Regions from separate parts of the Homo sapiens genome. Here region 1 is linked to region 2. Evidence: fine-mapped expression QTL. Tissue or cell type: lung. Region 2 holds a variant in brackets; the other region holds the start of a gene. All regions are shown on one strand. Distances are between the middles of the regions.

Region 1 (8,103 bases), 200 kb before region 2:
CTTCTCAGTGAGATGGTGCCATAAGGAAACATAAATAAAAAAAAAGGGACCCGGATTGGGAACAAAGGCAATGACTCCATGGAGTTCCCCTTGAGAATTAAGGCCTGGAATACTTTTTTCATTTCTGATTGAATGCAACTTTGGTAAAGTTATCTGGAAGCCCTACCCAAGGGAGATGTCACTGCTAATCAAATTGCAAGGAATTTACAATTTGCTAATTCATCGTTTTCACCACACTTGTGTTAGAGTTTTATGTACCAAAGTTGTCTTTTTTAGATAAACTAGAGAAGAAATAGGGTCAGAAGCATCTATTGAACATTTTTTTTTTTTTTTGAGATGGAGTTTCGCTCTTGTTGCCCAGGCTGGAGTGCAATGGCGAGGTCTCTGCTTACCGCAACCTCCGCCTCCCAGGTTCAAGCGATTCTCCCGCCTCAGCCTCCCTAGTAGCTGGGATTACAGGCATGCACCACCATGCCCCCGCTAATTTTTGTATTTTTAGCAGAGACGGGGTTTCTCCAAGTTGGTCAAGCTGCTGTCGAACTCCGAACCTCAGGTGATACACCTACCACGGCACCATGCCTGACCAATCATTTATTTTATCTATAAGTGAAATTCGTTCACAGAGAAACTTTGGTCATTCCTGATGGCAAAACTTCATGCGGTAAAACATTTTAAAATATTAGAATGGGTTCTGTTATTTATATGGCTCAAAATCCAAAAAAAGTACAAAATTGTATTTAGTAACAAATTTCTCTTCTAATGCTGCCATTTAACTATCCAACTCCCATCTCAAGACACAACCAATGTTATCTGCTTCTGGTATATCTCTCCAGATATTTTATGGGTTTTTGTTTTGTTTTCTTTTGACACAGGGTCTTGCTCTGTCACCAGCTTGCAATGCAGTGGCACAATCATGGCTCACGATGGCCTCAACCTCTTGGACTCAAGCCATCCTCCCACCTCAGCCTCCAGAGTAGCTGGGACTATAAGCGCATGCCACCATGCGCAGCTAATTTTTGTATTTTTTATAGAGACAGGGTCTAAGTTGCCCTGGCAGGTCTCAAACTCTTGGGTTCAAATTATCCTCCCCCTTAGACTTCCCAAATAGCTGGGATTAAAGGTGCAAGCCACCATGCCTGGTGGCTTATGCTTAGTTTATGCTTATACAAACATATCTATATATGTATCTATACAAGTTTGTATCATTTCCTCCCTTTTAGTAGAAATTGTAGCATACTATTAGGTAATTGTTTTGTGTTAAAAAATGCACATGACATAGATTGAAGATCATCTCATAAAAGTACAAAGAGCTTTCTCAGTCTTTTTAAAAGCTTTCATAAGATTTCATTTTATGCCTATATCATGATTTATCAGTCCTTTACTAAAGAATATTTGTATTTGAAATATATCTTATTATAAACAATGCTGAAATAAACAAGGTTGTAGATACATACCATTTCTCCTGTGTGTTGTAAGATAAACTCTTTTTTTTTTTTTGAGACAGAGTCGCGGTGCGTTGCCCAGGCTGGAGTGCAGTGTCACAATCTCGGCTCACTGCAAACTTCGCTTTCCAGGTTCAAGGGATTCTCCTGCCTCAGCCTCCCAAGTAGCTGGGATTACAGGCGCCTGCTATCATGTCTGGCTAATTTTTGTATTTTTAGTTGAGACAGGGTTTCACCATGTTGGCCAGGCTGGTCTCCAACTCCTGACCTCAGGTGATCTGCCCGCCTCGGCCTCCCCAAGTGCTGGGATTGCAGGCATGAGTCACCGTGCCACCACGCAGGGCCAAGATAAACTCTTATACGTATAGTTGCAATATTGTTAGGTATCCTGACCTTCCCCCTAGGGAGGTCATTATAATTTACATTTACATTTTCATTGTGACTGCTAGTCTACACTTTTACCAACACTGTGATTATCAAACTTTCTAATCTTTGACAATCTGATAAGTGAAAAAATGGTTTCTCAATACAGTTGCAATTTGCATTTTCTTATGGAGGAAAAAAAATTGAGCCAACTTTTTTTTTTTTTTTTAGAATAAAGAGCCACAAAGTTATGTGAGTTATTATTTTATCCTTAATATTGCTCCTGGAGTCTGTAGCAGGTCAGCATCAGAGTTCAGAGATCAGGAACATGGCAACATGCCCAGAACCAAGATGAAAAGAAAAGCCAATAGGCCCCATTTCATGAATATTTGCCTTGAGGAGTCCCTGAAGATGTCCCTAGAAGTTAACTTCTGTTTTTATGTGGAGACAATTAGAAGCTAAGTTTCAGATTCCCCAATGCCTGCGTAAGTAGCTCTAATTACTTAGCAGAGCATTGTATGTTTCCCCCCTTCAAACCACCTGACACAAAAATGAAGTAAAACAGGTTCTATATTTATAGATATAACTAAGCCACACAATAGGATTGTGGGGTTTAGACCAAATCATCTAGGTCACATCAGGGTTATAAAGATTAAATGATATGTTTCACACAAGAACTATTCTGCTTAGGGATGGAGGCTTGTTGCTAATTAGCATAATTGCCTCGTGACTTGCGGAAACTATGTCAGCGTTTTGTTTTGTTTTTGTGTGCTTTTTCAGAGGGAGACTCATCTGGTGGTGTTAAATACTATATCTATTTAAAATTAATCACATGCCTTTCCTAACAACACGGATCATGCTAGTTGCATCTATCTTTACAACAGGGATTTCTGAAGCAAATGAGAGGTGTCATTATGTAATGGAATTAAAAGAGAAGATTAGGAGTTAGGCTGGCTGGGTTTGCACTTGCCCTCACTGGCTGTGTGACCTTGCGCTAGTCACTTGACCTTTCTGAGCTTCAATTCCTCATTTGAATAATGGAGATAATCTGACCTATATACCCCTGGGTTTTGTAGTCAGGAAATAATGGATCATTGTACATATGAAAAGTCTTTACAACTATCAATGGCAAGACATCTGTCAGTTATTCTAATATTCATGGTATAGAAAACTGTGAAATACAGAGTCCTTACGTCTATTCTCCAAAAAAGTTCACTTCTCTTTAAAAGCTTTTAGCAAACCACAATCCAGGTAATTAAAAAGGAAATATTAAAATTTTGTTCTCAGGTTGTCTGACATTTCACGGTTCAGCAATGTGACATCTCTCACAGGCAGAATAGCATCTTCGGACAAGTTTTCTATTAAAAATATGCTTTATAGAAGAAAATATTTTACGGACCTAGAAGACAGCTGTCGATGAAATTTGCTCAGTTTAGCAAACAGCAAGGACTGTGTTTGTGTTTAGAGAAAAGTAGGTCGAGCCTAGTTTATCTCCCTGGGGTTCTAGACTCCTTTCCACGTTGTATCTCAAGCTCTAATAGCTGGAAAGCTACTTTCTTTAACCTTTAATACACACTTGCTAGTAAACTTGCTAGAAGCATGAAGATAATACAGACTGCGAATCAGCCCTTCTAAGAGACAATCACGACTCCTTCCTTGCAAGCTTCCGCCCTGATAATTCTGCAACCTTCCCACCTTCTATACGCCCCGCGGTGCGAGGCCCCTCGGCCTGCAGGTGGCCAGAGGCAAGCAGGAGTCAGATCCCCCACCTACCGCGGCCCGGCCTGGGCCCTAGCGCTGGGTGCGGCGGAGCCCCGGGCTCCTGCGGGGACGAGCGTGGTCCCGGGACGCGCGGTGCAGCCAGGTGCGCCGGCGGCAGTGGCAGCCGCTGAGCGCCGCGTCGCACGTGGCAACAGGTGCAGCGCTGTCCCGGGCTGGCGCCGGGGGGCGTGGGGCGCGTCCGCACTTAGTCCGGGAGCGCGCGGAGCGTCGGGATTGGGACCCGAGAGCGGGAGCGGAGAGCGGGAGCGCCCGAGCGGAGTCCAGCGCCCCGAGGTACGGCCTCGCACGTCATTCAGGTTCCCCGAGGGCCGTCCCCTGGGACGGCGGCTGGCCTTGGTCTCCCGCAGCGAGCCGCTGGAGTGGAGCCTTCGGAAGGAGCCGCCCCGGGTTGGGGCGGGAGGCCCGAGTTCGGCTATTTACAAGTTTCCCGAACTCCCCGCCCTGCTCCACCCCCTGGCGGCCCCGGAGGCGGGGAGGCGGGGAGGCCGGGGCTCCGGGTCCCGCCTGGTAGCCGCCGCAGGCGTGGGGTGGTGCCGCGCCGCGCGCCCCCAGGTGCAGACGCCGCCCCCGAGACCTCCGGGGCGGGTTCTCGGCGACCCCGCCAGTGGTGCAAAGGGCGCCAGCCCTCCCCGCCTCTGCGTCTTTGCTCCCGGAGCGCTTGAAGGAGCTGCGGGTAAGTGCGCGCTGGAATCTGTTCCCGCTGCCCGGCGGCCGGGGTGGGGAGGGGACAGGCGAGCGCGCCGCCCAGGGTGACGGGACCGGTCCTCGGGGAGGGGAGGGGGCGTTCCAGGGGCCTGGGGGCCGAAGCTGAGGGCTAAAGGGGGCGGCAGCGCCGGCGGAGCGGAGGCGGGTCTCACGTGGGCCAGCGCAGAGCCTGCGGAAGGGACGGATGCGGATCTCGTCGCTGTCACCTTGAAAGTGACCGAGGGGCTTGACTGTGGACTCCTTACGCCGCCCACCCGGGCCCGGCGGTCCCAGCCTTCTCGCAGGGCCCCTTCTCAGCAGAAGCAAGCGGGGCCGAGAAAGCGGGTGGAATAGGGTTGCTGCAGGTCCCAAAGACCCCTCGTGGCGCCTCGCTACTTTCTGCAGCTTGTTTGCACTTTTTCACGCTCTAGAAAAATCTCATCTTAATTAAGGTGACCTTATTGACTACTCTATAGTGCTTAGTGGACTTAGGTGTTCACTGAGGAACGTTTTTGTTCTTTTTTGAAGACGTACTCCTTTCTACCAAGTTGTTTGTTGATTTTTGACTTGGAGTAATTTGGGACTAGGAAGGAAGAGGTTAATTCATTTAGCCTGCGTAGTTACACATACTCTGTTAAATACTGTTTGTTTGAAGTAGTCAGTGTTCTAAGAAAGGAAATCCAGTGTGTTTTGTTTGTTTCAATGAAACCAAAGTCTTAGGCAAAACGGTGCGTGGAAGCTTTCAAGTTTTGCCAGGTGCAGGTGATCGAAAGTCAATCATCACTAAATCACAGCGCTGGGGCTGGAGGGTGGGAGTAGGGGTGTTACCAGTGAATTTCAGGAGGAAGGGAGGCAATGCAGGAGGGAGGGGATTAAAAAAGAGAGTCATTGCTTCCTGGGAACCAGTGACCTCTTTAAGGAGGGTATATACAAGATAACAGTGCATGGACAACTTTAAAAGGAATTGCATAAACGGAATTGCAATTCTGTAGACAGTTTGCTTTTTCAGGGATGGTTAGGGCAGGAAATGATACACAACTTAAAATGGTGATGTCCTGTTAGTACAGTGCTTTACAGTGTAGAAAGTGCTGTTACAGATTTTTTTTTTTTCATAGGCAATATATTCCATTAGGAAAGCTATACAAAGAAAAGATTAGAACTACATGCTTATCCTTAAAACCAAAGCTAAAAAACCTTAGAAGTGGAATTTAGTTTAAAATAATATGTAGTTATTTATGTAACTTGCACCACGTTTTTTCACCTGTTCTTTTTAAAATCAGGTTTATGAAGAGAAAATAATTCTTGGTAAATCTGCTTGGTAGAAAATCATGCTTGGAACAAGACCTTTTAATTATGTCAATAAGTCAAGGTTACATTTTGGAGTATAATAGGATTATAAGATTCTAGATAATATCTTATATTTTTTGGAAACTAACCTGCAGTTATTACACTCAAGCATTTAAAAAGCCTGTTACTTAATAGCCCTGTTCTGTTAACCCTGTTTGTTTTGATTTCAAAAGTAATCCGTGCTTGCTGTATAAAAATAGGTAGATTGAGAAAAGTGAGTTAAGCAATTTCAGCAAAGATAATCACAGTTAATATTTAAGAAAATACTTGTTAATATATAGAAAAATTTTTTATAGTTATATAGTTTATCTAAATATACTATTGCGTGGAGGTTTTTTCCTGATTAATGTATCATGAAAAATTTTCCATGTCATGAAATCTTCAGAAATCTTAGTGGCTACTTAATATTACATTACATAGATGTATCAAACTGGTTTTCATTTATTTCCACTTACTAAATATACTTTTGCAACAAATACGTTTTTAAAACTTTATGTGCAGGGTTAATATCCTTAGTGCCCTTGAAATACAGTTGATGGTTGGAAGATCTCCTCATACATATTGACCATTTGCTTTCCAAAAAATGTTTAACCAAATTATGTTCCCACCAGCTCTCTGTGAGAATACTGGTGTTACCGTATTCTTGTCAACATGTAGAATCATCCTTAAAGGGAAAAAAAAAAAATTCTTCCCAGGTTTATAGGTGAACAGTGCTTTCTCTATATTTAAACTTCAATTTCTTTGATTACAGATGATTTGAACACCAAAGAAATCTAGTTGTTTTCCATTTTGAAATTTGATGTAGTGCCAGATTTTTCTCCTGGGATATTAGTATTTTTCCATTAATTCATAAGAGCCTTTTATGGATTGATAGTAAATCTTTGCCATTCATATTGCAGATACTTTTCCCATTTTATCTTTGCTTTATATATTTACAGTAGTTTTGACATACACAAATTTCTTTAATGTTGATAAATCTGTTGACTTTCTCAAAACAGAATTTTTAACACTTCTAAATCGTAGCTTCAGAACTATATGTGACTGTGGTAGAAGATTTAAAAAAAATTTTCCAGCCGGGTGCGGTGGCTCACGCCTCTAATCCCAGCACTTTGGGAAGCCAAGGCGGGCGGATCAGGAGGTCAGGGGTTCGAGACCAGCCTGGGCAACATGGTGAAACCCCGTCTCTACTAAAGATACAAAAAATTAGTCAATTGTGTTGGCATGGATCTGTAATCTCAGCTACTTGGGACGCTGAGGCAGGAGAAGCGCTTGAACCCGGGAGGTGGAGGTTGCAGTGAGCCGAGATCACTCCAGTGCACTCCAGCCTGGGCAACAGGGCAAAACTCCATCTTAAAAAAAAAAAATTCCCCAAATTCTAAATTAGAATCTTTTCAAATTCATTGCAAGAACTTCCATATCTTGGGTTAGAGACTGTTGCAAAACTAATTGCATTTGTTGATGAGAAGCCACTGGGCCTGGTATATACTATTAGGAACAACATCCTTTGAAATCAGAGCAGAAAGTTTTAAATCCCTAAGACTGAATGTTTTTCAGATCTGTTATTCTGTGATTATACAAAGTAGGCTCACACTCCATTTATTGTCAGTAATCTATTTGTAGTATCATTTTGCCAGATTCTTCTTTTTATAGTCATTATTGTGGTTTCATACGGACTTGTTGATGTCCAGACAAATGTACTGCATACGTAGTTAAAAAATTTCCTGGATTAATTTCCAATACTGCTACTCAGCAAAGTATTTATTTGGGGGGGCGGGGGAACACGTCTTCCTGATATCTCAAAGTTGGGTTCTTTCTCTGTGTTGTGAAAGCTTGAATATACCCTGAAAGTCCTCACTAAAGGAAGTGTGTTCTCCATGAGAGCCTGAGTCCCTTTTATTCCCCAAGCTTAGAGCGTAAGAGTAAGCGATAGGACCATATTTGAGCCATAAGGATGAAATTGGAGTTCAGGATCTGCGTGCTTAGGGGCACTTAAAAATGGCCTCAGACTTTCTCTGGAAGAAGGCAGGCCCCGGAGGGAGGTGACCACTTAGCAGCGGATACAGTGGTGACTGTGGCCTCCTGAGAAGGAGGATGAGCGATCCCACCCACAGGAAATGAAGGACTAGATGGGATGGTATGAACTCAGCTAGCTTGAAATCTGGCCCCGAAAAGCCTACTTTGACCAGGGAGACTTTATACCTGGTTTTGGATGGTCCAGTATAACCAGGAGTTGAATTTGACTTGTAATTTCTTCTAACTTTTTATTTTATTTTATTTTATTTTATTTTTTGAGACGGGATATTGCTGTGTCACCCAGGCTGGAATACAGTAGCATGATCATAGCTTACTGCAGCCTTCACGTCCCAGGCTCAAGCTATCCTCCCGCCTCAGCCTCCTGAGTATCTGGGACTACAGTCATGTGCCGCCATGCCTGGCTAATTTTTGTATTTTTTGTAGAGACAAGGTTTTGCCATGTTGCCCAGGC
Region 2 (8,107 bases):
GTAACATCAGAAACCTAAATAAACAAACTGTTTTCTTGGTGTAGAGACTACAGAGATCTTGGGAATATGGCTTGATTTGAGTTTACTTTACTAAAAGCTGTGCAACATGAGCAAGTCTCTTAGGCTCTGTGGCTCAATCTAGTCACTTTTTAAAACGTAGGGTTCAAGCCACATCAGTGGTTCTCCAACCTGGCTGCATATCACAATCTTTTGGGGGAGGTTTGATGCTGTTCTCTTTGGCTCTTATTTTTTTTTTTTTTTTTTTTTTTTTTTTTTTACAGAGTCTCACTCTGTCACCCAGGCTGGAGTGCAGTGGCGTGATCTCAGCTCACTGCAACCTCCACCTCCCAGGTTCAAGCGATTCTCCTGCTTTAGCCTCCTGAGTAGCTAGGATTACAGGTGCACGCCACCACACCCAGGTAATTTTTTTTTTTTTCCAGACAGAGTCTCGCTCTGTCGCCCAGGTCGGAGTGCAGTGGTGCAATCTCAGCTCACTGCAACCTGCGCCTCCCAAGTAACTGGGACTACAGGTGCCCACTACCACACCTGGCTAAATTTTGTATTTTTAGTAGACATAGGGTTTCATCATGTTGGCCAGGCTGGTCTTGAATTCCCAAACTCAGGTGATCCACCAGCCTCAGCCACCCAAAGTGGTGGCATTACAGGAATGAGCCACTGTGCCCAGCTGGCTCCTATTTTATTATCACTATTTGAGACAGTCTTGCTCTGTCACCCAGGCTGGAGTGCAGCAGTGTGACCATGGCTCACTGTAGCCTCAACCACCCACCCCAGCCTCCCAAGCAGCCAGGACCACAGGGTGTAGCACTATATCCAGCTAAAACTTTTTGTTTGTTTTTAAGAGATGGGGTCTCACTATTTTGCTCAGGCTGGTCTCAAACTCCCGGGCTCAAGTGATCCTCCTGCCTCAGTCTGCCAAAGTGCTGGGATTACAGGCATGAGCTGCCTTGCCTGGCCCCTCCTTGGCTCTGCTTTGTACAAGTCTCTATCTTATCTTCAAGGCCTGGTCTCCAACAATCAGGTCATCACTTACACAATGATTCCATTTGCCTCACCAACGCCTGCTCACAGCTGCCTTCTCTCCTTCCTATCAGCCGCTCCACACTCACACTTGACCACACACTGTCTTCTGTTGCTCTGTCCTTGTATCTGGTTTGTCTTTTATCTCACTAGTTCTTAAGCTGCTTGTCGTTGGGACTATTTCTGTCTTTTTTCCCCCCTCATAAGCATTCTGACTTAGTAGACTGCCTTTATATATACATTAAGCAAACGTTAATGCTATTTAGCGTGCATTCTCCTCAGCAGACCAACACTGAACTGAAGGCTGTGACACACTCGCTCTGGTCACCCCTCCGGCTCTTGTATGGGACAGTGCCTCCCTCTGCCTCCTTCCCCAGGATGCCTACCAGCTGATGTGATATATTGTGCCAATGCACGAGCCACCTGGGTAAATAAACGCATGAGGGCACGTTCAACATTGATTCACTTGTATCAATGTTGGTTGACTCACAGGGCCCCCAACCCCCTACCTTTTCCCAGCTATGAAGTCAAGTTCACAAACAACAGTGCTGTTACAGGGAAGGGTGAGCTGGTGCTTTCTGACCTCTGCTCCAATGTAACTGAGACACCAGATCTCATCTGGGATCTAGGCAGTGGGATGGAGAGAGAGGAGTGCTTTGGACAGTAGGATGTGGTCTGAAAGGCAGAGACCAGGGGCAAATCAGGATGAACTCCCAAAGGCAATCCAAGCAAAGTCTTTGAGCAGGAAGGCACCAAGCGAGGCAGGAGACAGGCCCCTGAGGCCCCAGGACAGAGTGGACAAGTTGGGAATGCAGGACGGGAAGTGACAAGAGAAGGTTCTGGGCGGACTCCCCAGGGCAGCAACTTAGCAGCTGCCCACCTGCAGCCGGCTGTGTGGGTGGGACGGAGCCGCCAAGGCAGCCAAGCCCGGACACTGGAGGCAAACCTCTGACATCTTCGTTTTGCTTTTTTATAAATGTGCCATTCTACACAATTATACACTAGTGGACATAAAATTTCCCATTTTACATCTTATCCTTTATTCCTCTTTTCTTGCTCCCTCCTTTGACATATCTTTCAAAGCTGTTTTATTTACATCTTCTATATTCAAATACTTGGCCAAAAATCATGCTACTAACACACCAGTGTTTACATTTGAGCATTAAATCCCAGACGTCACCCACATGTATACTTACTTGTTAAAGCAACATTTCACTCATAAAATACATGCAATCACTGGTACTATAAACAATGCTCCATCTTGCAAGATGCCCCAAAATTATCATCTAACATAGTTGGTGATATTCCTACAGTGTCTTTGGTTTAACGCACTAGCTTGACTGTATTGTCATTTTCTTACTGTATTTTAATTCTGTGCAACACATCTGGGATAATCAATCCTAGACTTACCAGAAATGCTCAAGAAATGAAATGTTTTGTTGAAAGAAACTTTTTTTGTTGTTTTTTTAAATACATATTTGGTGTAGGTAGAAACATTATTTTTAAGTAAGAGTTAGCAGAAGACGTTTTCCCCAAAACTATAGAACGTGCTTCAACCAATTTCCCCTACTCTAATGACTAGATCGACGAGCAATGGGTGATCTAGAGAACCTTGGGACCATTAGTATGAGCATCAGTGAGCCCTCCACAGTGCTATGGACACAAAGAGTTTGTAGGGGATTGAGACACACGTCTAAAACGTTTCTTAAAACGAAACTCGCAGGCCAAGGCAGGTGGATCACTTGAGGTCAGGAGTTTGAGACCAGCCTGGCCAACATGAGGAAACCCCATTTCCAATCAAAATACAAAAATTAGCAGGGCATGGTGGCATGCACCTGTAATCCCAGCTACTCAGGAGCCTGAGGCAGGAGAATTGCTTGAACCTGGGAGGTGGAGGTTGCAGTGAGCCCAGATTGCACCACTGCACTCCAGCCTGGGTGACAGAGCAAGACTCCGTCTCAAAAAAAAAAAAAAAAAAACAAAAAAACAAAAAACGAAAAACTGGCTGTTTCTTATGATTTACCTCCTTTGGGTACAGTATGGTGAACAGAAATAGCTCACCGATATTTAGGTGGCTTACTATGTGTGCCAAGAGGTTTACACGCATGACCTCATTCTATCCTGAGAACAGCACAATGAGCCTCGTTCTATTATTACCTGCCCCCCACCCTTGTCCTGAA[C/T]GGAACATAGCTGTGTTTTTCTGCAAGCTGAACGCTCTCAGAACATTGAGTACACTGGGGGAAGTCTTGTATCCTGCAGCCTCCACCCACCCATCTCTGGGGAAATACGGAGGGCCTGCAGCTGGTGCCAGTGAGTCTGGAAAGAGAACGCTCTACCTTCAGCATTGGTTAGGTCACCTATTTGTCATTTCTGGGGTGGAAGACCATTTGAAGGCAAGTATTAGAGTTTGGGGGTGGCGTTTCCTTTTGACTGGCCACTGCAAATTAGACCCCAATTGGACCCATGCTCCAGATAAGAATGAAGGCAAAGTGAGAGCCTCCTCATCTTCATTTGTTCTGCTCAGAAAATAAAATAAAACGAGCTTTGGAGGAAAGTGAGTTCGCATACAAAAGACACTCACATAATGATATGAATGCACTTAAGTGTACTGAACTATCTCCTTAAAAATGGTTAATATGGTAAATTGTACGTTCTGTGTATTTTCGAAAAATATAAATTATTTGAAAAAAAATACCTTACTCAGCATAACACCAGAGTACTCTCCACAACATTTACCAAAGTCTGTGCAGATTCTTTCTCAATGGTGGGATTCTTCTGTTGATAACCACTTAAGATATTTCTCCTTTTCTTTTAAAATGTCTTCCAGACTCTCCCTCCAGATGCTGGATGACATGATGAGCCTGGCTGGGAGCCCACTCTCTGCTCCATCGGCCCACCCTCCCTTTGTGTTGTCTGTGGGTGGAGTAAGCTGTTGCCAACCGTGGCCAAATGAAAAGCCCGATGCCCTCCCTTCTCTCTAAAAGCTATTTATTGTTTTCCGAGGAGCCAGCCATCAAAGAGATCTCCTGTGCCCCACGCACTCCTCCCAACTCCCAGTTTTTGACTGAAAAAATGCTAACATCCGACCAGATACCAGAAAAACATCCTGAAAGACAATGCCTGGACTCTTATTTCCTAGGGAGCAGGACCAGGGCTTATTACCACATCAGCCTATCTTGTTTTTACTGCTGTGATGTTGCTGACAACATAGCTGAAATCTCCAACGTCTCCTTGTTCCTACCAGCATTGATTGGTTATATTTAAGCCTTCGTCCAGACCCACTTATTCTCCGTTTCATCTCATTTTCTTCCCTGGCTCAGCGCGGTGCCAAGAATTCTCTGGCTTTACACCCTGGAAGTGTGTTATGATGAGATTCAAGAAACAAAATGTGTGCAGAGAAGATGCAAATGGGTCACGTTGATCTCCCAGCAGGGGTTATTCAGATAATCCAGAATATTCTTACACAAAGTTTTTAATATTATCAACAAAATGCAAGAAAAAATTTAAAAAATTATTGCAAAAAAGCATGAGGTCCAAGAACACATCTAAAGACCCCAGTTGGAGTGAAATGGGTATGGGGCATGGGGAGGAAGGATGGAGGCAACTGACACAGGAAGAGACATTGTCTTTCTTCTGAAGGCAATGAGGACGGCTAACCCTCACAATGCGGTTTATATTACTCAGCATCTTCTTTCAGTCTCTCTCCCTCCTTCCTTCCCTCTCCCTGTCTCTCTCTCTCCCTTCTTTCATTCTTTCTGGGACAGAGTCTCACTCTGTTGCCCAAGCTGGAGCGCAGTGGCATGATCTCAGCTCACTGCAGCCTCCACCTCCCAGAGTCAAGCAATCCTCCCACCTCAGCCTCCCAGGTAGCTACGACTATAGGCACACGCCACCATGCTCTGCTAATTTGTGTATCTTTTTTCGTAGAGATGGGGTCTTGCCATGTTGCCCAAGCTGGTCTCAAACTCCTGAGCTCAAGTGATTCACCCGCCTCAGCCTCCCAAAGGGCTGGAATTACAGGCGTGAGCCACCATGCCCAGCCATGCATTTTCTTTGTATACATATTTAGAAAGGCTTTAAATCCTCGACTCATAATTGCCCTAAATTTTGCTCTAAATTTTTTTTAAATTTTATTATTATTATACTTTAAGTTTTAGAGTACATGTGCATGACGTGCAGGTTTGTTACATATGTATACATGTGCCATGCTGGTATGCTGCACCCATTAACTCGTCATTTAGCATTAGGTATATCTCCTAATGCTATCCCTCTCCCATCCCCCCACCCCACAACAGTCCCCGGTATGTGAAGTTCCCCTTCCTGTGTCCATGCATTCTCGTTGTTCAATTCCTACCTATGAGTGAGAACATGCAGTGTTTGGTTTTTTGTCCTTACGACAGTTTGCTGAGAATGATGGTTTCCAGCTTCATCCATGTCCCTACAAAGGACATGAACTCATCATTTTTCATGGCTGCATAGTATTCCATGGTGTATATGTGCCACATTTTCTTAATCCAGTCTATCGCTGTTGGATATTTAGGTTGGTTCCAAGTCTTTGCTATTGTGAATAGTGCCGCTATAAACATACGTGTGCATGTGTCTTTATAGCAGCATGATTTATAACTCTTTGGGTATATACCCAGTAATGGGATGGCTGGGTCAAATGGTATTTCTAGTTCTAGATCCCTGAGGAATCGCCACACTGACTTCCACAATGGTTGAACTAGTTTACAGTCCCACCAACAGTGTAAAAGTGTTCCTATTACTCCACATCCTCTCCAGCACTCTAAATTTCTTAATGTGGCCAACAAGGCCCTCCATGGTCTGCCTCACCTCCCATCATCATCTCTCCTCCTAACCTCCTTCCCACTCCCTCGCCTCTGACCGCCACATCTTACCCACCTGCCCTTCATGCTCCAAGTTTTATACTCTTTCCCACTTCTAGGTACTTCCTTCAAACACTTCTCTCTTTCTGGAATTTCCTTATATCTTGCTATGCCCTTCCTTACCCAGGGAACTTTCAAATATGAGCTTGAGTTTCCTCCTCCTTGACAGCATACTTCGGTTAGCAAGGCACTTGCTAACAGACTTTAATATTTTATTAAAATTGCTTATTTAATTGTCTTCCCTAAGATTAAAAGATCTATGGGATATAGAGATTTTATCTATTTTGCTCACCATCTTATCTCCATCATCTGCCTAGCAGAGACCACAAACATAGTAGATGCTTATGATAAAACAGTGGGAAGAAAGGAACAGGGCAGAGGAGTCAAGAAACAGAGTGTTCGACAAATGATAACTACTGTTGTCAGAAACAGTACCTTTGCTATTTCCGATCTCAAAGACAGGAGATGTTTATGGGATCTGGGATGGACTGAGTCTGGAGGTAAAACCTGAATCAATTTCAGCACCTGAAAATACAGTCATCAGCAAGTTTATATTAGCCTCGAAGGGATCAACTACACTGTTCAAGGGGGCCACTGCTCCTGAAAGACCCAGCAGGGGACAGGGGCATGAATAAATTTGTCCCTGTGTGGGTACATACACTTACAAATGTCTGCTCCCTTTTTAAAAAATGTGTTTGTTGGGCTGGGCGTGGTGGCTCATGCTTGTAATCCCAGCACTTAGCGAGGCCCAGGTGGTGGGTGGATCACTTGAGGTCAACAGTTCAACACAAGCCTGGCCAACATCGCAAAACCCCGTCTCTACTAAAAACACAAAAAATTAGCCAAGCTTGGTGGCGCACGCCTGTAACCTCAGCTACTTGAGAGGCTGAGGCATGAGAGTCACCTGAACCCAGGAGGCAGAGGTTGCAGTAAGCTGAGATCGTGCCACTGCACTCCAGGCTGGGCAAGAAAGAAGACTCTGTCTCCAAAAATAAATAAATAAAAATAAAATAAAATTTGTTTGTAAAATGAATTCTATACTGTTTAAAATACAACTTGAAACTGTGACCACTACGTAGCCTGAAAGGCTGAAAGGACCATAGGTATAAGTGGGCACATATTGTATCCACTCAGTTCTCATTTGGAATGTTTCTTCATTTACTGGTGATAGGAAGCCAGTTGTAGCACAGCTGAAACCTGCCATCTAGTGGACCTTCTCATGACAGGGTTTTGCAAACAAGCATCGCAGAGTAGACCAGAACTCCAAGAGCATCCTGCAGTTACGCTCTTCCAACAGAGCTCTCCTTTCCAAATAGCCCAGTATCAGGTTTTCACACTCTGGCATCCAAAGAGCTACCCTAAATCAATGTGGAATTTCAACCACTTTCCACGCAAAGCTATTCCACCAAGAAAAATCAATGCCTCATTCTGGGTATCTGCTTTTCATTTCTGTTTTGAATCTTTAGAAATCAGGTTAGTTTAGTCTACAGCTTTAAAAAAAAATTCGATGATTACTCTCTCTTGCCTGAAGCTACCTCCATCAGACCGAGAGTGTACTGTGATCTGAATTTATCTCAACACACATACCACAGAGCTCTGAAGTGGGGCAGCCGCTCTGCCTCAGGAACTAGGGCTCCCAAGTTCTGGGACTCATGCAGCCACTTGCCAGCTTGTCCCTCTGACCAGCCACATCTCCTCTATGACTCTCAGTTCCCTTATCTGTCAAAAAGTGGGGCTTCCTCGAAGACATACACATGGCCAATATGCCCAACATACTAATCATTAAAGAAATCCAAACCAAATCCACAATGAGATACCCTCTCACACCGGTCAGAACTGCTAGTAACCAAAGCCAAAAATAACAGATGCCGTCAAGGTCATGGAGGAAAGGGGAAGTTTACATACTGCAGGTGGGAATGTGGATTCATTCAGCCACTGTGCAAAGCAGTTTGGATATTTCTTGAAGAACTTAGAGCTACCATGTGGGCCAGCAATCCCATTACCAAGTATGTATCCAAAGGAATATAGATAGTTCTACCACAAAGGCACAAGAATTCCTATGTTCATGCAGCACTAGTCACAAGAGCAAAGACAAGGAATCAACCTAGATGCCCATCAATAGTAGACTGCATAAAGAAAATGTGGTACATACACACCATGGAATACTACACAACCATAAAAAA

Evidence for each region. PIP is the estimated chance that this variant, and not a neighbour inherited with it, causes the effect.
Region 1: it holds the start of MTUS1, and the variant in region 2 is fine-mapped to the expression of MTUS1 in lung (TOPMed, PIP above 0.99).

What each region holds. Positions count from the first base shown.
Region 1 is chr8:17,797,218-17,805,320 of GRCh38, reverse strand. It overlaps MTUS1 (microtubule associated scaffold protein 1), which reads left to right and starts at 4,227. Exons shown (of 15, transcript NM_001363059.2): 1 at 4,227-4,260. It overlaps MTUS1-DT (MTUS1 divergent transcript), which reads right to left and starts at 3,979. Exons shown (of 3, transcript NR_186403.1): 1 at 3,579-3,979. RefSeq lists silencers at 3,624-3,813, 3,854-3,913, 3,994-4,113.
Region 2 is chr8:17,601,805-17,609,911 of GRCh38, reverse strand. The region is part of intron 2 of PDGFRL (platelet derived growth factor receptor like); the gene reads right to left. LOC107986919 (a long non-coding RNA gene) reads left to right here. Exons shown (of 2, transcript XR_001745819.2): 2 at 3,866-4,266. Among named protein-coding and RNA genes, the nearest start is that of PDGFRL, 29 kb to the right of the region's middle. The variant C/T (reference allele first, on the strand shown) is at 3,219.